Homo sapiens: one gene and its partners. The protein of the gene in region 1 purifies or fractionates together with the protein of each later gene. This does not show direct contact. Each region holds a gene or a part of one and is shown in the gene's direction. Other genes may lie near its edges. The genes, in order: ATL2, BCL7B, FAM120A, ADD1, DENND1A, LSM11 and CSNK1G2.

Region 1 (3,820 bases):
GGTCCATGTTTGTTTTGGCTATAAACTTGAAGACCGAAGAAGCAGACCATTTTTTTTGAAGAAAGTTGATTGGATATTGACTTTTCTTGTAATGATGTTATTTTATAAAGTGACCCACTATATTAATTTGGATTTTGTGTTTACTCTTTAGAGAAATGCTCTATTCAGATCCGATTGGGAAGTTTATGTTTGGATATTTATTCTATTTAAATTTTTATCTCAATCTCACTACTTGATGTTTCTTTGATATCTTCTAATAGAAGATGGATGCAAAGCTATCGCAACTTCACTTTTAAGAAAAAATTAGCTATTTTAAAATTTTGGATCATTTTCTGCAATATAATTTTCAATAATTGTACAATATCTTCTTTTGAGAAATATTCATCTCTTAAACAGCATTGATTCTAGGATTTTGGAGGTACCATTATTACAAAACAATTAAATGGAAGAATCTAAAGTGTATAAAATCATTTTCAGTATAGTTTAGGTAAGGTAATCAGCTAGTCAGAGATCTGTGCTGTGTCAACAAACCTTGTCTAAATTTCTTTGCATTTCTCTTTTCTTTTGCTTCAGAGGAGTCCCAGGAAGGTGAGAAACCTACAGTCTCAAATTCTTGTAGTCTTAAACTCTTTAGCTTCGAGGCACTCTGATTCATTCTCCTAACAAATCACTTCATGTTTTAGGTGTTTTCCAAACTGTTTGAAGTTACTAGACGTCGAATGGTTCACCGTGCTCTTTCATCAGCACAGCGACAGAGACTGTCATCCAACAATAACAAGAAGAAAAATTAGACAGTATTTTTAACCTTTTTCTCTATCTGAAGTGTTCACACTTACACATGTAGGACAATAAGCAGGACCGTCTGGGCCGGTCTGCATAAATGCTGTATACATACCAGATTTGATGCTGCATATAGGGTATGGAATTGCACATCCATCTCATAGGAATTGTAAATGGTTTGAATAAGAGGAAAGTAATTTTTGTTGCATTATAAAATGTCTAGTAGCATCATAAGTTTTTTTGAGAGAAGCATCTTTTTATTTCCCATATTCCTGGTTATTTTCATCATTGCTTTGAATTGAATTTTTATATCTATTTTTATATGTAACTCTTTTTTTACCTCATGTTTTTGTTTGTTTTGCACATTTCTCATACCACAGGTATTGAAGCCCCTGGGTGATAATTTGATGGAGGAAAACATAAGGCAGTCTGTAACAAACTCTATCAAAGCAGGCCTGACTGACCAGGTGTCTCATCATGCCAGATTAAAGACAGACTGACAGTTCATCTCCTCACGGACTCCACTCTCTTTTTTTTTCATGCTTGCTGTACAATGAGAACTCAAATAAAAATAAACCAAAGTTTACAATCAACTGTAGAAGTAGTTTAGTGTAACTGGCTTCACAGATGGCTGCCACAGAGTGTGAAGATTGTTTGTTAGTTTTAAGCATTCTTTTAATGGCTCCTAAGACATGCAGATGGACTGAGGAGCATTGGTTAATCATGCACCTTTGTGCCATGTTTAACTCTTTTATTTCTTTTTACTTAATCTAATGTTAGTGAATTTGTCTTATGTAAAAGGATATTTCAGGGAAATATTTTCAGAAATCTATTTAGAGTCTCTTTAACACAGTGTCCCATTGAAATTTTAATTTTTAGAGAATTTATGAATCACTGTTTCAAGAACCAGATTGGAAAGACAATGAAGCCTTTATTGAGCCACTACATTAAAAGTATATATTGCTTTACTGCCTTCAATACCAGTATTACATCAATGCATGTATCAGAAACTTCACAGAAATTACATGGCAACTCTTGTAGCTAAGAAAGTAATTCTGAGGTGTACATTTGTCTTGCCTTTTTAAATTTATAAACTTGCCCTAAAAGGAGATGCATATCTGGGAAACTGAACTGTCTTTTTGCAGTTTAGCCTTCATGTATATAAAATATGCCATTAATTTTATTGGGGAAGAAATTCCATCCAAAAATGTTGCCTACAGCTATGAGTTAAGAGTGTCTGTACAGTGTGTAGCTTTTATTTTCTAAAATCACAGATAGGGCATGTATATGACTTATAAATATATAAATACGATTTTGTATTAAAAGTTTTGTAGTTTATGGCAAAATCTGGTCCTGTGGTAGGCTAAATAAGTACTGTCCCTGTGAAAGGAATGTTTGTGGCTCATGTCAGTGTGTGAATGCATAGACAATTTGAAGTTTTTGATATATTTGTGATATTTATCTTGAGCACTGCAATCTCACCCCCCCCCCGCCCACCAAGGGAATTCAATGGGAATGTTTATTGTGACTTTGTCCTCTGTTGCATTTTAAAGTTATTTCCTGTAATTTATTTTCAGTACATAATTAAAAATTTGTTGTATATATAAAATGAAACTTGTGATTCTTTTTTAAGGAATTTTTCAAGTATGTATTCCACTTCATAAACCACATTTGTTTATAGTGAAAAGAGCATGAGCAGGAAACACCCCAGTTGAGAGCTCTAAGGCATTGTACCTCAAAACTAAGCTTGTAAAAAGTTACTTTTCTGTGTCTGTCTCTATAAGGGAAAACCTATGATTAGCCTAGTTGTAGATGGGGATTGTTAATTTCTTTCTCTCTCTTTTTTTTTTTTTGGTGGTATATGTAAGGCTAGCATTTTTTCAGTACTTTTGTGGTCTTCTTTGTGAACACCGATTAAAGTACCTAGTTTTGTTTGTTTCTTTTTTGAGACGGAGTCTCTCTCTGTCACCCAGGCTGGAGTGCAGTGGTGCGATCTTGGCTCACTGCAACCTCCACCTCCTGGGTTCAAGTGATTCTCCCGCCTCAGCCTCCTGAGTAGCTGGGACTACAGGTGCGTGCCACCATTCCCGGCTAATGTTTTCTATTTTAAGTAGAGATGGGGTTTCACCGTTTTAGCCAGGATGGTCTCAATCGCCTGACCTTGTGATCCGCCTGCCTTGGCCTCCCAAAGTGTTGGGATTACAGGCGTGAGCCACCGCGCCCGGCCCTTAGTTTGCTTTTTAAGCGAAGAGAATGCAGGTGTTGAGTTGCATGTGTGAAAACTCTGAATTTACTTTGGTTGATACATCTTCGCTCCCACTCCCATTCAGATTCTGTTTTTATATGGATTGTATTTGTTTTCATCTGTATTAAATTGCTAACTTATCTGTTCTTAAAGAATCCACCTGAAAAGTGTCTTTTTATTTCTTCTGCCACCCTGTTTTATGAATGCTGTGGACTGTTTTTTATGAATGAAAAAATAATTTGTTGTATAATAGCAGATTTTCTGAAATTAAAGACAGCTTACTTTTAAAAAGTTATAAAATCTAGACCATTGGCTTTCTTACATTTCTTGTCAGAAAAGAGTGCTTTACTCAAAGAAGACAATTCTCTACAGGATTTAAGTCCATTTCACACTTTTAAGCTTTAGCCTAAACATTCATGTCCTGGATTCCCTCCTTTCCTCTAACTTGACCAGAATGGATCTGCGCATCTCAGGTTTTTTCCATTCGTGTGATAGTCGTGGAGTGAGGATGAAAATTAGCTTGAGTTGCTGTGCATCTGGTAGCCATCTTCTCACTTGGCCAGAGATTACTCATCAAATGACTATTGTACTTGGATTCTGTTGGGAGCCTCTGCCATAAAGAGAATGCGACTTTGGGGAGTCTTCCAGTTATTGGTTCCTGTCAAAGCTAGATTGGGGGTTTCCCAGGCAGCACAGAGAATTGCTCCCTTACCTTCTCTACTGAAGTCTTAGATCCTAGGAACTCCTGTCTTTCAGATTTACATTTTGCTGGAAGTTAGACCGAGGAATTGAGCT
Region 2 (3,500 bases), on another chromosome or scaffold:
GAGTAGTCGGGACTACAGGTGTGCGCCACCATGCCCGGCTAATTTTTGTATTTTTAGTGAGGACAGGATTTCACCATATTGCCCAGGCTGGTCTCGAACTCCTGGGCTCAAGTGATCCACCCACCTCAGCCTTCTAAAGTGCTGGGGTTGCAGGTGTGAGCCACCGTGCCCGGCCCTATTATGTCATCATTTGCTGAACAGCATCAACAACTACAACAGCAGTTGCTTTTTTTTTGCTTTTTCGTGACTTCATATTTGGACTTGACTCTTTGAGAAGTTGGCTCAGATCTGTGACAAAGCAGTTCCCTGCATTTGACCCTTGTTCCTACTGACAGCAAGTACCTCTTAAGGTATTGGTGGACCTTAAAATAAGCAAATTTGTTCTCTGCCTGCACGCTTAGGGAATAACCTTCTTGGAATGAAGGAGAGGCTGGGCACGGTGGCTCACACCTGTAATCCCAGCACTTCGAGAGGCTGAGGCAAGAGGATCGCTTGAGCCCAGGAGTTCAAGATCAACCTGGGCAACATGGTGAAACCCTATCCTTACTAAAAATACAAAAAATTAACTGGGCGTGGTGGCCTGTAGTCCCAGCTACTTGGGAGGCTGAGATGGGAGATTCACCTGAGCCTGGGATTTTGAGGCCGCAAGGAGTGGTGATCACGCCACTGCACTCCAGCCTGGGTGACGGAGACCCTATCTCAAAAAAAAAAAAAAAAAAAGTCTCCTTTGTTCTATCTCCTCCACACATTTGTTTGCAGACCTCGAAGGCACTCTGTGGGTAAGCTCAGAACAGTGGCATTCTAATCTGGTGTAGATAGTTGGGGGTCCTTAGTCATTTAGAGAGTGACCTTGTGCAAGGCTTATCCCTTTGCTTATTTCGTGAGCGTAGTGGACTGATAAACTCTGCCATTTTTACCCCTTTGGAACACAGCAAGAGACAGGATTTCTACAAAGCTTTGAACTTCAAAGTTGAAATTTAAAAATTTCTTTAGACTAGTTTTCTTTCTTTTTTTTTTTGAGACGGAATCTCGCTCTGTCACCCAGGCTGGAGTGCATTGGCGCAATCTCGGCTCACTGCAACCTCTGCCTCTCAGGTTCAAGCAATTCTCCTGCCTCAGCCTCCTGAGTAGCTGGGACTACAGGTGCGTGCCACCACACCCAGCTAATTTTTTGTATTTTTAGTAGAGACAGGGTTTCACCGTATTAGCTAGGATGGTCTCGATCTCTTGACCTCGTGATCCGCCCACTTTGGCCTCCCAAAGTGCTGGGATTACAGGTGTGAGCCAGCGCGCCTGGCCTAGTTTTCTTTTTCTTTATGCAGTCTTAGTAACCCAGAAAGGGAAAGGTTCCTAACATTTCACACCCACCAGGCCATACCCCCCAGCAGCAGGTGTCTCTCCTGAGATTGTTTGCCCCTTGGAAGGGTCTTTAAATGGACACAGGAGGCCAGGTGTGGTGGCTCATGCCTGTAATCCCAGCATTTTGGGAGGCCAAGGTGGGCAGACTGCTTGAGACCAAGAGTTCAAGACCAGCGCGGGCAACAAAGAGAGACCCCCCACCCCCACCCCACCACCCCAACCATCTCTACAAAAAATAAAAATTTGGCTGGGCGTGGTGGTGTGCGCCTCTAGTCCCAGCTACTCAGGAGGCTGAGGTGGAAGGATTGCTTGAGCCCAGGAGGTCAAGGCTGCAGTGAGTTATGATTGTGCCACTTCACTCCAGCCTGGGAGGCAGAACGAGACCCTGTCTCACTAAAACAAACAAAGAAAAGGAATGTAGTAATAGAACTCATATATTTGGTAAAGAGAAAAGCACTCAAAGTAACTCGCATGCAAGTAAAAAAGAATATGGTGCTGTGTGTGCTACCTTCCAGCCTTATGTCCCACATCCTTTTTTTTTTCTTTCTTTCTTTTGAGACAGGGTCTCTGTTGCCCAGGCTGGAGTGTGGTGGCGTGATCTCAGTTTACTGCAACCTCTGCCACCTGGGCTCAAGGGATCCTCCCACCTTAGCCTCCGGAGTAGCTGGGATTACAGGCACACGCCACCACGCCCAGCTACTTTTTGTTTTTTTTTTGTAGCGACAGAGTTTCACCATGTTGGCCGGGATGGTCTCGAACTCCTGACCTCAAGCGATCTGCCCACCTCAGTCTCCCAAAGTGTTGGGTTTACAGGCGTGAGCCGCTGCGCCTGGCCTGTATTTTTTTTTTAGAGATGAGGTCTCGCTAAATTGCCCAGGCTGTTCTCAACCTCCTAGGCTTGAGTGATCCTCCTGCCTCAGCCTCTCAAAGTGCTGGGATTTCAGGTGTGAGCTACCATACCCCACCAAGAGGAAGTTCAGAAGGATTCCAGATTGAAGGAATGATCTGCTGAGTAGTAGAAAAACACAAGTGATGAACAGAAAACACATTGCATTGTTTTATCCGTTCTAAGAAGTGTCTTTCTTTTAGGGAGAAGAAGTGGGTGACTGTGGGTGACACGTCCCTGAGGATATTTAAGTGGGTTCCTGTGACAGACAGCAAGGAGGTAAGTGTGGAAGAAAATCAAAAGATACCATTTTCTTTATTTCTTTATTTGATTGCCTCTTTTTTTTTTTTTTTGGGACGGAGTCTCGCTGTGTCACCCAGGCTGGAGTGCAGTGGCATGATCTTGGCTCACTGCAACCTCCACCTCCTGGGTTCAAGCAGTTCTCTGCCTCAGCCTCCCAAGTAGCTGGGGTTACAGGCATCTGCCACCACACCCAGCTGATTTTTGTATTTTTAGTAGAGACGGGGTTTCACCATGTTGGTCAGGCTGGTCTTGAACTCCTGACCTCGTGACCCACCTGCCTCAGCCTCCCAAAGTGCTGGGATTACAGGCGTGAGCCACTGCACCCGGCCTAATTGCCTTTTAATTAAAGGAATTTATTTGCCCAGAATTGAGTGGAAAATACTTCAAGGTACCCTGTTATTGGTCCATGCAAGGCCTCTCTTTATTATTTTCCTACTTTATTCCTTTCCCTTAACCCAAGCCTCTTTTCCAGGGCTTGACAAACTACAGCCCTGGCGTATTCCTTAGGTTTGTCAGTATAGTTCTATTAGAACATAACTGGCTGGGCGTGGTGGCTCACGCCTGTAATCCCAGCACTTTGGGAGGCCAAGGTGGGCGGATCACTTGAGGTCGGGAGTTCGAGACCAGCCTGGCCAACATAGTGCAACCCCTGTCTCTACTAAAAATACAAAAAAAGTAGCTAGGCCTGCTGGCAGGCACCTGTAATCCCAGCTACTCAGGAGGCTGAGGCAAGGAGAATCGCTTGAACCTGTAAGGCAGAGGTTGCAGTGAGCCAAGATCCCGCCACTGCACTCCAGCCTGGGCAACAGTGTGACACACCATCTCGAAAATAAGCAAACAAACAAAAAAAACCAAACACATAAGTATGCCCACTGATTTCCTTATTGTCTGTGGTGCTTTTGAATTACAGTGGCAGATTGAGTGGTTGCCATAAGGCCAAATGGCCCGTAAA
Region 3 (3,500 bases), on another chromosome or scaffold:
CTGGCCTGGTCTGAACTGCCTCAGCCCCCAGTGTCGGGATTGTAGTCATGAGCCACCGTAACCAGCCTTGATGAGATGTAATGTTCCTATTCTGCCTTCTTGAACTTTGCTCAGTCAGTACAAGTATTCTGTTCAAACTGATTAATTAAACCCAGGAACTGAATACATTTAGATAAAACTTGCTACTTGAGACTGGGGCACTGGGTAGATTCGAATGATGCCGTATCTCGTGATGTCTACCCTCTCACTATCCACATTCAGGGATGGAAAGGATTTGGGGAGTGAGGAATGTTTATAGAAGTTCAGCCCAGCTCCCTGCTGTAGAATGTTCTTGTATGAGCAGTCCAGCAGTCAGTAAAGCAACCCTTTTCATTGTTGAACTGCTCTCATTCTTAGAAAGTTCTTGTTTCTGTTGACTTGAAATTTGCTTCCGTGGTTTAATTTTTCCCGCTGTTCCGAATTCTTTCACGTGCCACGCAGGATGTGCCTGTTCACTGAGTTCATAATCTTACTTCTCATGGGCCTTGTACTTAGCCTTCTTCAAGCTGATCATGCCTCAGGTTTTGCCTCCTTCTGTCACCAGGCCTCCTCTTCTGGGCGCCGGCCTCTGGCTCTTCCCTTGGGGTCTGGCCAACACCGCAGGCTTTGGGCCAGCATCAGCTGCTCCCAGGCTCTTAGCTCTTGGGAGTTGCTCCTCCATCCTTTGCCTCCCTGGGCACTGACATTGCACCTGGTCTCAGTCCAGGCTTGGCCAGCCTGACCGGCTCTGTGGGGCCTCCTCTCCCTATAGGATGGCCAGACGCCGCGCCCTCCCACTGTGCTCCAAGGCCCCACCCTGCCTCTCTGGACACTGGATCTGTAGTGTAACGGGAACAGGTCACATGACAGTTTCCTTTCTATAACTTTTTATCTTCTGTAGACTATTGAGATTTAGTAAACATGTCTGTTTGCACATGCTTAAAATGGTTGGAATGTTTTGCCTTGTCTGTGTTTGCAAGCGATGAAAATTAAAGGTGGTAGGGATTATATTGATTTGTTTAATCTTGGACTCGACATCTTCAAAGCTATATTTTTTGGGTGATACTTGAAAATCATACAATGTCTGCCTGTTTATTTATTTATTTATGAGATGGAGTCTCATTCTGTCACCCAGGCCAGAGTGCAGTGGCACGATCTCTGCTGATTACAGCCTCTGCCTCCAGGGTTCAAGCGATTTTCAGCCTCTGCCTCCCGAGTAGCTGGGGTTATAGGCGCCTGCCACCATGCCTGGCTAATTTTTTTATTTTTAGTAGAGACGGGCTTTCGCCATGTTGGTCAGGCTGATCTTGAACTCCTGACCTCAAGTGATTCGCCTGCCTTGGCCTCCCAAAGTGGTGGGATTACAGGCATGAGCCACTGAACCAGGCCAGTTTTTTGTTTTGTTTTGTTTTTTGTTTTTTAAGACTTAACTTTGTTACTCTTTGTTTTGTTTAACATTTCAGGATCATATGCCAAGTAATAGAGGAACATTTGTTAGGTTGGGCTAGGAATGGGGACTGGGGTAAGGCCGACTGTAGTTCTAAGAAGAGGTTCCAGTTTAACACCATTTCTTTAAAGAATTTTACCGTATTTTAATTCAGAGCAAAAGCCACACAGCTGCATATAGGCGTAAGTGAGTCCTTTGAGGAAGTAGGTGACTGAGCTGTAACAAGTCAAGATCATACAGCCGAGGGATTGCAGTGCATGTCTCTTTTCATTCTGAAAGAACTTCTCACTATTTAAAAACTATTTTTAAAGTTACGAAATATTTTGAAATATAGTAAACTTTTTTGGCCTTTTTTTCTTCTTTTGCTTCTTGTCTTCAGTCTGCATATTTTTTTTTTTACCGAAAGCCCACCTCTCTAGTAAGTGTGAAAGGAAGAGAGTGAGAAACTGGTGGTGTGACCTCTACTCTGGAGCCCCGTGTCCCTTCTGAGAAAGATGCCTCTTGTTGTAGAGAGGACACACAGTGGTTCTGCTCAGCTGCACTTGGGCATGGAGAACAAGAACCGATATAGACGAAGGCCTGAATCCGCAGAGGGAGACCCTGGGTTAGGAGGCACTTCTGCAGCCTTCAGAAAATGCAGACAAATTAATTCACTTATTGGACTGCTTTAATAGAATAGTGGCTTGCTCTGTGGATTCACAGAGGATTATTTGAGGTCAATGATTGGAATGTGATTTTAGAAAATATTCTTTCCTTGGAATTCTTTGGTTTTATGCTGTAATGTAGTTTGTTTGTTTGCTTTAAAGGAAAGTTTGTGCTTTCAAGGAAGGTTTTAGGATGAAATGGCCAAAAATCAAAAAACAAAAATGATCATCTTCACTTGAATGCGGGTGCTACATGAGTCTAGCCTTAGATTTGTATTATTCCAAAGTTAGGTAAGTGAGGTCAGCCACAAGATATTATACACTAGACATTTTACATTGATTTAAATTATATGGTTGGAGCTTGAATAGATTTTATAATATTCTTTGGACCAAACCTGCCTATCAGAATCACCTGTGAACAGTTTTTTAAAATAATAGCGACTTTGATCGCACACGTGGAGGTGCAGATCTAGCCAACATACTGTTTTAGGAACAGCTCCTTGTATTGTCTGTGCCATGCGTGTGTGTGCGCCATGCATGCACGTGTGGGGTGTGTTTGTGTGCACTTCTGTGTGTATCTACGCCTGTGTGTGAGTGACCACTTGATCATGCACACACATCCCTTAGAGGCACGGACTTGTGGACTTATCGGTCAGTTAGGAATGTGTTGTGTGCACGTGTGTCTATGTGCGTGTTGCATGCAAGTGTGAGGTGTCTGTGACTACACACATGCCAGTCTCATTATTCCCAGCTTCTCATACTGCAGTTGTTTTTGTTTGGTACAAAGGTGGAAGCTCTGCCAAGGTTTTTTCTTGATGCGAGCCAGGATCGAAGGGCTATGGTGTTTAAAGCTTGCGAGCTGAAGGCCCTTGGAAGGCAGGAACCTCAGATAAATTGTAGTCTGTAAGATTCCTGGTCGTTCTCTGGGGGGAGTCAACAATGATCTGTGCTTCACTCCCAGCGTCTGTTGACCATGCTTGGCTCTCAGGAGGCCGGACCAAGGACAGCGTTTGCACTCCTGGTCTCACCACGCCCAGTGTTGGCTTAGGGAACCTCTTGTGAATGCAGCCATGGACATTTGCTTTTCAGAGAACGAGAGTGAAGGTTTGGGGAATGTTTCTGTCCTTACCTATATTGGCAGTAGGCAGTGTGAGAGGTGGTGGTTCTTGGGTTGTGTTCCCCTTGCCTGGTGTTTTCCTCTGATTTCATACTGCTATAAAGAACTGCCTGAGACTGGATAATTTATGAAGGAAAGAGGTTTAATTGACTCACAGTTCAGCATGGCTGGGGAGGCCTCAGGAAACTTAGCATCATGGCAGAAGTTGAAGGGGAAGCAAGGCACCTTCTTAACAAGGCAGCGGTAAGAAGTGTCGAGTGAAGGGGGAAGAGCC
Region 4 (3,500 bases), on another chromosome or scaffold:
GTGGTGGCTCACACCTGTAATCCCAGCACTTTGGGAGGCCGAGGCGGGCGGATCATGAGGTCAGGAGATCGAGACCATCCTGGCTAACATGGTGAAATCCCGTCTCTACTAAAAACGCAAAAAATTAGCTGGGCGTGGTGGCGGATGCCTGTAGTCCCAGCTACTCGGGAGGCTGAGGCAGGAGAATGGCGTGAACCCGGGAGGCGGAGCTTGCAGTGAGTGGAGATCGCTCCGTTGCACTGTAGCCTGGGCGACACGGAGCGAGACTCCGTCTCAAAAAAACAAAAACAAAAACAAAAAACAAGCTAGGTGCGGTCGCTCACAATCCCGGCACTTTGGGAGGCTGAGGCAGGTGGATCGCCTGAGGTCAGGAGTTTGAGACCAGCCTGGACAACAGTGAAACCTCATCTCTACTAAAAATACAAAAATTAGCTGGGCATGGTGGTGCATGCCTGTAATCCCCACTACTAGGGAGGCTGAGGCAGGAGAATCGCTTGAACCCAGGAGGCGGAGGTCGCAGTGCCATTGCACTCCATTCTGGGCAACAAAAGCGAAACTCCGTCTCAAAAAAAAAAAGGAAGTAAGACTAGGATTCTACTCAACCTTCTCATTTTTATATACCTGTATCTACTTTTCTTCTAAGCCAAACATTTTGGTTCTACTTGCTCACTGTTTCAACCCACACCGTACACATTTCAGTCTCAGAACAAGATGAACACGTGAACCTCGAAAATTTGAGACAGGTCTCGGTTAACTTAGAAAGTTTATTTTGCTAGTGTTGAGAATGTGTGCCTGTGACACAGCCTCCAGAAGTCCTGATTGACATGTGCCCAAGGTGGTTGGGCACAGCTTGGTTTTATACATTTTAAGGAGACATGAGACATCAATCAATATATGCTAGAAGTACATTGGTTCAGTCCAGAACGGCGGGGACAGCTTGAAGCAGGGAGGGAGCTTCCAGGTCACAAGTAGGTGAGAGACAAATGGTTGCCTTCTTTTGAGTTTCTGATAAGCCTTTCCTAAGGAGGCAACCAGATATGCATCTATCTCAGTGAGCAAAGGGATGACTTTGAATAGAGTGGGAGGCAAGGCTGGGCATGGTGGCTCACGTCTGTAATCCCAGCACTTTGGGAGGCCGAGGCAGGTGGATCACCTGAGATCAGGAGTTCGAGGCCAGCCTGGCCAGCATGATGAAACCCTGTCTCTACTAAAAATACAAAAATTAGTCAGGCTTGGTGGTGGATGCCTGTAATCCCAGGTACTCAAGAGGCTGAGGCGGGAGAATCACTTGAACCCAGGAGGCGGAGGTTACAGTGAGTTGAGATCGTGCCATTGCATTCCAGCCTGGGACAGAGTGAGACTCCGTCTCAAAAAAAAAAAAAAATAGGAATCTTAACATAGCATAATATTAAACTTTAATAGAGTTGTTTAATTGTTAATGCTTATTCTGGCCTTTCTACATTGAGGAACCTTGAGTTTAAAGGAATGAGGGGAAGCACATTTAATACAGTTTGCCTTTTGAGCTTAATTTTTCTAGAAGTACCTTTTTAAACAGTTGTTATAACTAATGTGTAACACTGTTTTTGATAACTGTCAGCTTAAACATGTTGAGCATATATTTATTTAATTAATTTATTTTTTTTGAGACAGACTCTTGCTCTGTCACCTAGGCGGGAATATAGTGATGTGATCATAGTTTGCCGCAGCCTTGAACTCCTGGGCTTAAGCCATTCTCCCACCTCTGACTCTGAAGTAGCTAAGACTGCAGGTTCATGCCAACAGGCTTGGCTAATTTTTTTTTTTTTTTGAGATAAGGTTTCAAAAGCCTGAGCTGTGTTGCTCAGGCTGGTCTTGAATTCCTGGTCTCAAGTGATCCTCCTGTCTCAGCCTCTGAATATGCTAGGATAACAGGCATGAGTCACTGCACCTGACCTGTTTCCAGGTTTTTACTGTTATAAGCAGTGCTCCAATTAATATTACATCTCCATATTGGGCACTTATGAGGTACATCTATAAATACATTCTCAGAAATGAAATTGCTATGTCAAAGAATAATTGCACTTTTCATTTGCATAGACATTTCCAAATTACCCTCCTGGCCCCAATTAATATTCTTACATTTCCATCTTTGGGCACCTATGAAGTATATCTATAGATACATTCTCAGAAGTGAGATTGCCATGTCAAAGAGTAATTACACTTTTACTTTCCGTAGATGTTTCCAGATTATCCTCCTAAGAAGTTACGTTGGTTTATACTCCTACCAACTGTGTATTTTCTCCACATAATTAAGTATGGACACTAAAGTAACAATAGTCCCTATCTTACATGGTTATTGTGAGGATTAAATGAAGTAAATGCCAAAAGGTACCTACTAAGCTGTCAGCAAATGACTTATATTATTAATATAATTATTGTTTTTTTCTGAACTTTATTACCAGAAATATTATAAACCTAGACAGTGCTTCATGAGGTTGGGAAAGAGGGTTCATACAATTGATCTGAGCAATATATGCCTCCAAAATACTGTTATCTGTATTAGAACAGACGAGCTCTGCATCTAGGCCTTGGGCCCAGGGAGTCTGGCATCTGGGGCTGACGTTAGGGGACAGAGTCCACAGGTATATCTCAAATTTGCTGGAAAGGGCATGCCTCAGGAATGGGGCGCAGTAGATGTAACTACATGTGTGCCTCTGCAGCCTGGAATGGCAGCTGTGGCTGTTTGCATGGGGAGGAGAAAGTCATCATTTGGGAGGGACCTTTAGAATATCCCATCCCAAACACTTCTCTCCTTCTCTTACTCTGAAGGGCTTAATTTAAATTTGCTTTGTGGATTAACGTATTGAGAATGATTTAGGGAGTTCCTTACCTAAAAAATGTTTTCCCTCATCTGCACACTGTCGCTTGAAATTTATTTCACAGGAGAGGGAGCCGTAACCATAGGCAGTGTGGTATTATGAAAGGAGTACTGGCTCTTCACTATGGGTTTACTGTGGTTTGCTGAGGGTAGTTGAGTGGGTGAGAAAGTCACTTAGCTGCCCCAAGCCTCACTTTTCTCCATCGGAAAATTAAGTAGCCATGTAATACATGAAAGAGAGAATGTTGTGAAAACACTTTGAGAATGCAAAGGCCAAGTGAAAACATATGTCCGTACAAAAGCTTGTGTGTGAATGTTCAGAGCAGCATTATGTTTAACAGACAAAAAGTGAAACACCCCAGATGTCCATCAGCTAATGAGTGGATCAACAAAATGTGGTCTGTTCATACGATGGAATAGTAGTTGGCAATAGAAAGGATTGAAGCACTCATACCTGGTACAACATGGATGAACTCTGAAAACATGCTAAGTGGAAGAAGCCAGACACAAGAGACCATGTGCTTCATGATTTTACTTATGTGAAATGTCTTCAATAGGCAAATCTTTTTGTTTTTTGTTTTTTGTGAGACTGAATCTCACTCTCTTGCCCAGGCTGGAGTGCAGTGGTGCGATCTTGGCTCAC
Region 5 (3,500 bases), on another chromosome or scaffold:
GAGCAGTGTTGGCTTATGATAGCTCTGCTCCAGTTTGTTTAAAGGATCCCATTGCCAAAATACACAAAAAGTTTGCTTTTTCTTGAGGCCTGTTGTATAGCACAACTAACGTATCTCTCTGCTTTGTGATGAGACCAAGAATTGGAATGTGACTTCCTTCCAGGCCTTCTTCCTCTAATGCCTATTCCCCTCTTCCCTTTCTCCGCCACAGTGCTGTCCTCCCTGTCCCCAAAGGAGAATGTAGAGAGACTTGGAGTGGTGGAATAAAAGTCTCTTTGAAGACCAAGCTCTCCATCGTTAGTGCTCAGAGTCAGCCACTTGAATTTTCATGACTTTTCTGGAAAACATGTTGGTGCTACTCCATCACTCTTTTCTTAGCCATTGTAGTCAACTTAGAGGGCATTGTACAGCAGATAGGAAGGTTGAAACAGAAGGTAAGACCTGGAGTATTGCTCTAGGAAAGTATGTTTGCATTGAGTTATTAAATCTGTGTAAGTTCCTGGCTGGAGTTCCGGTTGCAGTTGCAAAGGTCCAGCCTTTTTCCTGGCCCTAGGGAGAGCTAATCTCTGGGTTCGTAACATCCTTTTTGCTTAAAGGGGCTTTGTAGGGACATGGAAAGATAAACAAGGAAGAAAAATAAACAAAATGAAGTTGTTTTGTTCTCTACTTTTATTGGAATCCGTACCCATTCTTTCCGAGTATTCAGGACTTGAAAAGGAGCCAAATAAAGTAAGAAAAGATATGTTAAAATACATATATGTTCCTATAGAAAAGAGAGGTGACATTCCAAAAGTTCATTTGGACGTTGGTTATGACATTTAGAATGTGTTTCCCTCTTCAAGATACTGTTATGTACAAATCAGTAACTGTTGAGGGCAAGGGCATTCCAGATATAGGGAACTGTGTATGCAAAAGTCATGGGGAGATAAAAGGTAAAGCTGAAATACAGGATATAAGGATAAAGATTACAGGAGAGGAAGTTGATGAAGTAGGCATGTGCCAGTGGGATATGATGCCATTGAAGGGTTGAACTGGGGATGTACTATGATCAGATTTGGGTTTTTAGGTAGATTACCCTGGCAGCAGCAGTTTAGAACAGTGATATCTCTGGCTTTTACAAGATGACGCATTGGAACGTGAGAATATGTTAGAAATTGTATTTATTTTTATATCAACCTTCAAAGTTTGTATTTTTTAATGTATGTGTTAGTATAGTAAGGCATTATTATAATTTATGGATATTTATCAGATGTATGCTCACTTTTTTACTGATAGGAAGAATGCATGGAAAAAAATGGGAGGCCACTGGATTGTGGAACTGTGTAAATAGTTTTTACTGCTGAAGATCAAGGTCCAGAGCAAGGTTTTGGCAGTGTAAAGAAAAGGAATGACAGGCCGGGCGTGGTGGCTCATGCCTGTAATGCCAGCACTTTGGGAGGCCAAGGAGGGTGGATGGCTTGAGTCCAGGAAGTTGAGACCAGCATGGGCAACATGATGAAACTCTGTCTTTACAAAAAAATACAACAATTAGCCAGGTGTGGTGGCATGTATCTGTGGTCCCAGCTACTTGGGAGGCTGAGGTGGGAGGATCACTTGAGCTCCCACAGAGCTCAGGAGACGGAGGTTGCAGTGAGTCAAGATCACGCCACTGCATTCCAGCCTGGGTGACAGAGTGAGACCCTGTCTCAAAAAGAAAAAAGAAAAAAAAAAAAAAGGATGGCTTTGAGAGATTTTAAGTAGAAATGACAAGACTTGGTGACAAATTACACGTAAGAGGCAAAAGAAGAATCAAAGATGACTTGCCAAGGTTAGCAGAGTTATGTTACAAATGGAGTATTTGTGAGGTGAGGACTGGTTATATGTTTGCTTTTCTGAGGAAAAGTGAAAAGTTATAATTGGGATAAGGCATTTTAGTCTGCATTGAGAATGGAAGGAATCTTTGAGGGATCCATAGTGAATGTGTGTGCTTTATTGAATGAGTAAGACTTGAAGTGGGCTGGACTAAATTGCTGAAGGCAAATCTGTTCATGGTAGATTTAGAGAGGGGGAAAAGAAAAACCACCTTTTGAATTCACTTTAGCCACAGGAAAGGTTTGAGGGTGTTGCATTGATCTCGCATAGGCTGTATGAATAAATGGAAGGAAGGAAACCAATCTAGAGAAGATACTGTTTGACTCCACGCTGGCAGTTCTTGAACTCCGGGGTGTGAGAGGAGCCAGGGGTATGTGAGCATTGGAGTACTGAGTTCCCAGAACTATACATTCTCCCTCTGAGTTCTAAATTTCTGAGCTTCAGGTTAAAAAAATAATATTTATGGAAGGAAGCTAATAAATTAACCTACAGGGTTGTTGTGATAATTAAAAGAGATATTGTGCCTAGTTCTCAGTGGAGATATGACTGCTTATTAAATGGCAGCTATCATTAATATTGCTTGGAGAGGAGAAAACACAGTTGTCTGAACAACCTGGAGTTAAAAAACAAGTTAAAAAACAGCAAGTATGTTCCTTTTTATAGTATTACAGTTTTTTTTGGTTTTGTTTTTAAAAACCAAAGTATTTGCTTCCTTTCAGTAAGAATGTTAGGATGACGTGTAGTGTATTTCACTGAATTTGTTTGAAAGATTGAGATGCTGATATATACAAAGCACTATTGCTCTTGCTGGTTGGGAAGAAAGGAAGCCTATAGTCTACTAAGACAGGTAAGATGAGCGTGCAAACAATTAGAATTATAACATTTAAGAACACTTATGTCCCCAGCCAGGCCCGGTAGCTCACACCTGTAATCTCATCACTTTGGGAGGCTGAAGCAGGCAGATCATTTGAAGTCAGGAGTTCGAGATCAGTTGGGCCAACATGGCAAAACCCCATCTCTACTAAAAAAAAAAAAAAAAATTACAAAAATTAGCTGGGCATGGTGGCGCATGCCTGTAATCCCAGCTACTTGGGAGGCTGAGGTGTGAGAACTGCTTGAACCCGGGAAGGGGAGGTTGCAGTGAGCTGAGATTGCACCACTGTACTCTAGCTTGGGCAACAGAGCAAGACCCTGTCTTGAAGTAAAAAAACCACTTAATGTTCCCTTTATCATAAATATTGGAAATCTATTCAGTTTTATAAAAGATTTATACAAATAATTTATATTTATCTCTGTTTAACTGGTACTACTTTTCAGTCTTTTTAAAGTGTTTTTTTTGTGTGTGTGTGACAGAGCCTTGCTCTTGTCGCCCAGGCTGGAGTGCAGTGGCACGATCTTGGTTCACTGCAATTACTACCTCCTGGATTCAAGCTTCCTCTGCTTCAGCCTCCTGAGTAGCTGGGATTACAGGCACCTGCCACCATGTCCGGCTAATTTTTCGTACTTTTAGTAGAGACGGATTTCTCCAGTTTGGCCAGGCTGGTCTCAAACTCCTGACCTCAGGTGATCCGCCCGCCTCGGCCTCCCGAAGTGCTGGGATTACAGGCTTGAGCCACCATGCCCGGCCTTAAAGTGATTTTTTATTCTTT
Region 6 (3,500 bases), on another chromosome or scaffold:
CTGCACTCCAGCCTGGGTGACAGTGAGACCCTGTCTCAGGAAAAAAGAATGTGTACGGCTTTCTTTTGGGAGGTTTTATATACCATAGCCAGCATATTGTGAGAGCTGAGTTAACATGAAATAATAAAAATAAAATTCATCTTTCCTCCCACGCTCTGAGAATCCTTCATAATAAAAGCTGAAATTTATAGTCTCAATATTCTTCCTATGAGTCATTATCCTGCTCTCTTCACATGATGCTTATTAGTAGTGTCATAGGAGCCAGATACTCAGCCAGGTGCCTTTTACACTGTCAGGGCTTGGGCCAGAACCAGTGCTTTTCCTCCCAGAAACACCAGTGAGTCCAGAAAGCTTGTGCATGGAGTAGCTTTGGTGGGGTCAAAGGCCTTTCTTTCTGACAGGATTGTACATGTTTAAGGGCAGAGTGCAGTTTGTTTCCTTTGAACATGTAAACAAGGTTTTTGTTTTTTTGGAAGACTCAAGCTGGATATGTGATTCATGAATTGTCTTAAGGCACAGAATTGAGAAGGATCTCGCTGTTAATGTATACATTTAATGTTTGCGTGCCCGTGTGTGTGTGTGTTTCTCAAGATGGAGTCTTGCTCTGTTGCCCAGGCTGGAGTGCAATGGTGCGATCTCGGCTCACTGCAACTTCCACCTCCTGGGTTCAAGCCATTCTCCTGCCTCAGCCTCCTGAGTAGCTGAGATTACAGGCATGGGCCACCATGCCTGGCTAATTTTTGTATTTTTAGTGGAGATGGGGTTTCACCATGTTGGCCAGGCTGATCTCAAACTCCTGACCTCAGGTGATCCGCCCACCTCAGCATCCCAAAGTGCTGGGATTACAGACGTGAGCCACCACGCCCGGCCAACCCCAAAAGTTAAGTGATAGTGCATGTTAAAATCAGTGACATCGTGGAATAAGAGATATACCGGTAGTGAAACATTTGGCTGATATTCATACATATGGATGATCCACATTCTGTTGGAATCTAGTCTTGTGTCAGTGTGTGTTGGCCGTACGAGCCATGTTGCCCATTGGACCTTCCTGTTCCAATAGTGAGATTGTCACTCTACCATGGGCCACATGTTGCTGGCCGAAGTTGGGTGGTCGTGGCTTAATTCTGGGAATGAGGGCAGATATTAAAACTGTCCTGACTGTTCTTCTCTTGTTTCAGTGCACGAAGGCAGCCCTCTGGGTGAACTCCATCGCTGTATCCGTGAGGGGGTGAAGGTGAATGTTCACATCCGCACTTTCAAGGGACTTCGGGGCGTCTGTACAGGCTTCCTTGTTGCATTCGACAAGTTCTGGAATATGGTAATTAAGCCTTTCTCAAGGGGCTGGAGAACCTCCTACAGATTATATCTTCTATAATATTTAAAGGACCTGAGTAACTGCATTAAGTAAAACCCAAAAAATAACTTCTTAGAAGAACTAGAATTTTTGCATACTTTTGGGCAACAACAAGAAAAGGTCTTTTTATTGCTTCCTTCTCCTTAAGGCAGTGGCTCTTAACCAAGGTAATTTTGTTCTTCCTTCACTCCCAGGAACATTCATCAATGTCTGGGGACATTTTATTGTCACCACTATAGGAGAGGGTACTACTGGCATCTAATTGGTAGAGGCCAGGGTTGCAGCTAAACAGTCTACAACACACAAGATAGTCCCTCAACAACAAAGAATTATCCAATCTGAAAAGTCCTTAGTGCCAGGGTTGAGAAACCCAGCCTTAAGGACCAATTATTTTATCGGTTTAGTAATTTTTAGTTGATTTTCTACCAACCATTCTTTCATTAATTAAGAAAAACATTTATTGACTTCCCATTTTGGCTGAACCCCATGCTAGGTGCAAAAGTTTCAGAAAGGAACTTGCACTTTACAGTACATGGGAAGGTAAATAAGGATAGAGGTGAAGCAGACATCAGTAAACAAAGCATTTTGCATGATGTCTTTTTTTTTTTTTTTTGAGACAGTGTTTTGCTCTTGTCACCCAGGCTGGAGTGCAGTGGCACAATCTCAGCTCACTGCAACCTCCGCCTCCTGAGTAGCTGGGATTACAGGCCCCTGCCACCATGCCCAGCTGATTTTTGTATTTTTAGTAGAGACAGGGTTTCACCATGTTGGCCAGGCTGGTCTTGAACTCCAGACCTCAGGTAATCCGCCTGCCTCAGCCTCCCAAAGTGCTGGGATTACAGGCATGAGCCACTGCGCCCGGCCACATGGTGGTTTTATAATGAGGGAGTGTGCCACACTTCCTAGCCTTCTAGAGGCTTACTTTTTTTCTAGACATTTGTAGGAGAGAAGGGATATGTAATAGCACAACTATAATTTGAGGTAGTTAAGAACTACTAGGCTGCACGCGGTGGTTCACACCTGTAATCCCAGCACTTTGGAAGGCCGAGGCAGGCGGATCGCCTGAGGCCAGGAGTTCAAGACCAGCCTGGCCAACATAGGGAAACCCCCATCTCTACTAAAAATACAAAATTAGCCAGACATGGTGGCACAAGCTTGTAATCCCAGCTACTCAGGAGGCTGAGGGAGGAGAATCACTTGAAGCTGGGAGGCGGAGGTTGCAGTGAGCCGAGATCATGCCACTGCACTCCAGCCTGGGTGGCAGAGCGAGACTCTGTCAAAAAAAAAAAAAAAAAAAAAAGAACCACCAGAGCTTTCTGGTGTTTCTTTTCCATATGGTCTTCTATCTCCAACTTTCCTTTTCCCTGTGCTTTATCCCCATCCACGCATCCTCCTGGATAAGAACAGTAGCTGCTAACATATATTGAGTACCTGCTATGTGCCAGGTACTATACTGAGGGCTTCATATATTATCTCAATGAATGAGTTGTGGGTACTATTACTGTTCCATTTCACAAATGAAGAAATTGATTCTAGAGAGATTGGAATGTTGGTCGCAGATCACACTGTTAGTAAGTGGAAGTGCCAAACTTTTTCCTCGGCCTAACTCCTAAAACCATGTTTTTAACCATTAGGGAATTTGAATCCTAGCATCATCACTTGGTAACTGTGTGACTGTAAGCAAGATAATTTCTCTGAGCCTCAGTTTTCTCATTTCCAAAATGCAGGGAAAAATGTTTTATTATGATCTTTTTACCTTTGAAGAATTGAAGAGAATGTGTTAGATGATAGTGGTGATTATAACAGTACTGTCAGCTTCTATTTGTAGGGTGATTTACACTTTTCAAAGGAATTTGTCTTGTACTTCTCATTTGGTCCTAACAGCTGTCCTGTCGAGGTTGCTCTCGGTGATGAGAACTCACCAGCAATTCTGTGTGTAACCCTGGTTAATCTCTGTTAATTGCTTTCATAAGACATAGAAACTGAAGCGGGTAAAGAAGCAGTAATGTTCCTCAAAGTGGGATCTAAAGCCATCCTGCATCAGAATCACCTGGGGCTTCTGGTTGAAACAAAAGGTTCCTGGGCTTCATCCCAGACCTACCAAAACAGAATCTCCAGCAGAATAGCTTTGGGTTCGTATTTTAAT
Region 7 (3,500 bases), on another chromosome or scaffold:
GATCACGAGGTCAGGAGATCGAGACCACAGTGAAACCGCGTCTCTACTAAAAATACAAAAAATTAACCGGCCGTGGTGGCGGGCGCCTTTAGTCCCAGCTACTCAGGAGGCTGAGGCAGGAGAATGGCATGAACCCAGGAGGCGGAGGTTGCAGTGAGCCGAGATTGTGCCACTGCACTCCAGCCTGGGCGACAGAGCGAGACTCCGTTTCCAAAAAAAAAAAAAAGATCATTGTTTCCATCCCTGCTAGCACAACATCCAGCCTGTAGCCTGTGGATCAATGAATGAATGAATGACTCGGAAATCAAGATGACTCCTTGACATGTCATTCATTCATTTATTTATGCATGACAAGGTGTCCCACTGTCACCCAGGCTGGAGTGCAGTAGCACGATCTTGGCTCACTGCATCCTCCACCTCCCGGGTTGAAGCAATTGTCTTTCCTCAGCCTCCTGAGTAGCTGGGGCTACAGGTGCGTGCCACCATGCCCAGCTAATTTTTATATTTTTTCATAGGGGGTTTCACCATGTTCCTCAGGCTGGTCTTGAACTCCTGAGCTCAAAGCAGTCTGCCCGCCTCAGCCTCCCAAAGTGCTGGGACTACAGGCCTGAGCCACTGTGCCTGGCCAAGTCTTAGTGTTTTTGAGGCACGGTCTCACTGTGTCTCCCAGGCTGCAGTGGAGAAGCAGAATCACAGCTCACTTTAGCCTCCACCTCCCAGGCTCAAGCGATCCTCTCACCTCAGTCTCCTAAGTAGCTAGGACCACAGGTGCGCACCGCCATGACTGGCTAATTTTGTTTTTATTTTTGTAAAGATAGGGTCTCCCTGTGTTGCCCAGGCTGGTCTTGAACTCCCGGCCTCAAGCAGTCTGCCTGCGTCAGCCTCCCAAAGTGTCGGGGTTACAGGCAGGAGCCACCGCAGCCGCCCATGACTCTCATTATTGAGAAATACATTTGTAAGGCTCTAGGTGCCTGTAGGTGCCGTGGAGAGCAATTCCTCTGATGGAGCTGGGGAAATTGGGTAAATTGAAACCCCCGGAAAGGCTTTGCCGTTCTAGAGGCTGTGAAGGACACGCGTGATCCATGGGAGGAGGTAACATGTCAGGATGAGCGGAAGTTTGGAAGAAGTTGGTCCCAGGCCTGAAAGATCACTGTGAGGGTTCAGGACTTCAGTGGAGGAGGGACTGTAGAGGTTTTAGAAGCAGCAAGAGAACTAGAATGAGAAGGACTTGGAGATGTGACTGCATTGTCGCTGTCTCGCGAGAAAACTTTAACACGTGAGGAGTTGCCTCTGAAGGGTGAGCAGGGGAGTTGCTTCAGTTGCGCTCTAGTCCCAGTGAAGATTCTGTGAACCTGGGGGTAATGAGGACAAAGAACTTGGAACAGCCCGGAACCTCGGTTGATGAAGCCGCGGCCGGGTTGAGAGGACCGACTGCAGTTCTGAAAGACGTTCTGCTGTGGGTAATCAATGCTATCAGACAGCATCACGCCCCACAGAGAAATCTTTCATGAAAGGAAGAGTCCATCGCTGTGGCCAACTTTTTTGTGGTCATAGTTTAAGAAGTTGCCCCAGCCTCCAGCAGCCACCGCCCCAACGAGTCAGCCGCCGTCCACATTGAGGCAAGACCCTTCTCCGGGGAGATTAGGGCCACTCCCGGTTCCCATGATCATTACCATTGCTTAGCAGTAAAGTATTTTTATTTCTTTATTATTTATTTAAGATGGGGTCTTGCTGTATCCCCCAGGCTGGAGTGCAGTGGTGCGATCATAGCTCACTGCAGCCTCCGCCTCCTGGGCTCAAACGATCCTCCCGCCTCAGTCTCCCGAGTAGCTGGGACCACAGGCTTGCACACCACGCCCCGCTTAATTAAAGTGTGTCCTTTGATTAGACACAACGCTACTGCACACTTCCTAGACCACGGTATACTGTGAACGTAACTTGTGTGTGCACTGGGAAACCAGAACATTCGAGCGGCTGTTGCCGTGCGGAACCCAAGGCCTGTGATCCCCACAGGGTGTTTCTGGCACCGGAACGCAGGGGCCACATCCAGGGGGGCAGTGCTTGTGACGCCGGTGCCTTCGTTTCTGATGTGGCTTACTCAGCTGGGAGTTCCTGTCCTAACATTTTCGGCGATGGCTGTGCACCCACGGCCCCTCTTCACCCGCGGCCCCTACGTCCTGCCGGTTGGCAGGAAACCTCTTCCCCTGCACATCTGGGGCACAGCAGCAAACTGTGGTCCCCCTTCTTCAGTGAGGGTGGGGCTTCTGTCTGTCTGGAGCCCTAGAATGGGGCCAGGGGTGGCTGGGGCCTGGGTCAGGGAGGACCCGGCAGGATCTGTGCAGACAGGCAGGTGGCTGCGGTGGCTCCCGGTGCAGGGTTCTTGGCCTCCTGGGCGGGTACCTGGCTTGAGGGCGACGAGGTGACAGCCGCGTCCCTGGGGTTGCACCACCCGAGCGTCCAGTTAACACCACAGCTGCCACCCTTCAGTTCTGCAGGTGGGGCTCCTCCCTCCTCCCCAGGCTGCCCCCACCACCCTTCAGTTCTGCAGGTGGGGCTCCTCCTTCCTCCCTCCTCCCCAGGCTGCCCCCGACCACCCTTCAGTTCTGCAGGTGGGGCTCCTCCTTCCTCCCTCCTCCCCAGGCTGCCCCCGACCACCCTTCAGTTCTGCAGGTGGGGCTCCTCCCTCCTCCCTTCTCCCCAGGCTGCCCCCGACCACCCTTCAGTTCTGCAGGTGGGGCTCCTCCCTCCTCCCTTCTCCCCAGGCTGCCCCCGACCACCCTTCAGTTCTGCAGGTGGGGCTCCTCCCTCCTCCCCAGGCTGCCCCCGACCACCCTTCAGTTCTGCAGGTGGGGGCTCCTCCCTCCTCCCCAGGCTGCCCCCACCACCCTTCAGTTCTGCAGGTGGGGCTCCTCCCTCCTCCCTCCTCCCCAGGCTGCCCCCGACCACCCTTCAGTTCTGCAGGTGGGGCTCCTCCCCAGGCTGTCCCTGACCACCCTTCAGTTCTGCAGGTGGGGCTCCTCCCTCCTCCCTCCTCCCCAGGCTGCCCCAGACCACCCTTCAGTTCTGCAGGTGGGGCTCCTCCCTCCTCCCCAGGCTGCCCCCGACCACCCTTCAGTTCTGCAGGTGGGGGCTCCTCCCTCCTCCCCAGGCTGCCCCTGACCACCCTTCAGTTCTGCAGGTGGGGCTCCTCCCTCCTCCCTCCTCCCCAGGCTGTCCCGAGGCTCCTTGCTGGGGACCGTCCTGCCTCCCGTCGGGGCCTGCGCTGAGACTGGGCTCCATGCCAGCCGGGGCTGGCTGGCCCCCTCGCTCCAGAGAGCGACCTGCACAGAGTCCCCTCAGCCATGAGCCCCTGTCCAGACACGGCGTTTCTCTGTGGGTGGCAACAGGCTCTGGGGCCCTCAGCTCTGGGCTCGGGAGCATTTAAGGTGGTGCAGACTCAGCGAGGGGCTGTGGGCTGGGGTCCCACCATCCCGGGAGCAGGGACTGCGTGTTCCTTCTCA

Evidence for each region.
Region 2: the proteins of ATL2 (region 1) and BCL7B purify together in Homo sapiens (affinity purification with mass spectrometry; one large-scale study listed by BioGRID and IntAct). This does not show direct contact.
Region 3: the proteins of ATL2 (region 1) and FAM120A purify together in Homo sapiens (affinity purification with mass spectrometry; one large-scale study listed by BioGRID and IntAct). This does not show direct contact.
Region 4: the proteins of ATL2 (region 1) and ADD1 purify together in Homo sapiens (affinity purification with mass spectrometry; one large-scale study listed by BioGRID and IntAct). This does not show direct contact.
Region 5: the proteins of ATL2 (region 1) and DENND1A purify together in Homo sapiens (affinity purification with mass spectrometry; one large-scale study listed by BioGRID and IntAct). This does not show direct contact.
Region 6: the proteins of ATL2 (region 1) and LSM11 purify together in Homo sapiens (affinity purification with mass spectrometry; one large-scale study listed by BioGRID and IntAct). This does not show direct contact.
Region 7: the proteins of ATL2 (region 1) and CSNK1G2 purify together in Homo sapiens (affinity purification with mass spectrometry; one large-scale study listed by BioGRID and IntAct). This does not show direct contact.

The regions. Positions count from the first base shown.
Region 1 is NC_000002.12:38,293,454-38,297,273, reverse strand, and holds the end of ATL2 (atlastin-2), read left to right. Parts: intron 1-573; coding exon of another isoform or gene 574-588; intron 589-683; coding exon of another isoform or gene 684-791; exon of another isoform or gene 792-1,160; coding exon 1,161-1,280; 3' UTR 1,281-3,320; downstream 3,321-3,820. UniProt on the Homo sapiens protein: Atlastin-2 (ATL2) is a membrane-anchored GTPase that mediates the GTP-dependent fusion of endoplasmic reticulum (ER) membranes, maintaining the continuous ER network. It facilitates the formation of three-way junctions where ER tubules intersect.
Region 2 is NC_000007.14:73,551,191-73,554,690, reverse strand, and holds part of BCL7B (B-cell CLL/lymphoma 7 protein family member B), read left to right. Parts: intron 1-1,021; coding exon of another isoform or gene 1,022-1,143; intron 1,144-2,448; coding exon 2,449-2,524; intron 2,525-3,500. UniProt on the Homo sapiens protein: Positive regulator of apoptosis. Plays a role in the Wnt signaling pathway, negatively regulating the expression of Wnt signaling components CTNNB1 and HMGA1.
Region 3 is NC_000009.12:93,510,685-93,514,184, forward strand, and holds part of FAM120A (constitutive coactivator of PPAR-gamma-like protein 1), read left to right. Parts: intron 1-3,500. UniProt on the Homo sapiens protein: Component of the oxidative stress-induced survival signaling. May regulate the activation of SRC family protein kinases. May act as a scaffolding protein enabling SRC family protein kinases to phosphorylate and activate PI3-kinase.
Region 4 is NC_000004.12:2,846,844-2,850,343, forward strand, and holds part of ADD1 (alpha-adducin), read left to right. Parts: intron 1-3,500. UniProt on the Homo sapiens protein: Membrane-cytoskeleton-associated protein that promotes the assembly of the spectrin-actin network. Binds to calmodulin.
Region 5 is NC_000009.12:123,920,127-123,923,626, reverse strand, and holds part of DENND1A (DENN domain-containing protein 1A), read left to right. Parts: intron 1-3,500. UniProt on the Homo sapiens protein: Guanine nucleotide exchange factor (GEF) regulating clathrin-mediated endocytosis through RAB35 activation. Promotes the exchange of GDP to GTP, converting inactive GDP-bound RAB35 into its active GTP-bound form.
Region 6 is NC_000005.10:157,750,212-157,753,711, forward strand, and holds part of LSM11 (U7 snRNA-associated Sm-like protein LSm11), read left to right. Parts: intron 1-1,178; coding exon 1,179-1,318; intron 1,319-3,500. UniProt on the Homo sapiens protein: Component of the U7 snRNP complex that is involved in the histone 3'-end pre-mRNA processing. Increases U7 snRNA levels but not histone 3'-end pre-mRNA processing activity, when overexpressed. Required for cell cycle progression from G1 to S phases.
Region 7 is NC_000019.10:1,965,172-1,968,671, forward strand, and holds part of CSNK1G2 (casein kinase I), read left to right. Parts: intron 1-3,500. UniProt on the Homo sapiens protein: Serine/threonine-protein kinase. Casein kinases are operationally defined by their preferential utilization of acidic proteins such as caseins as substrates. It can phosphorylate a large number of proteins. Participates in Wnt signaling.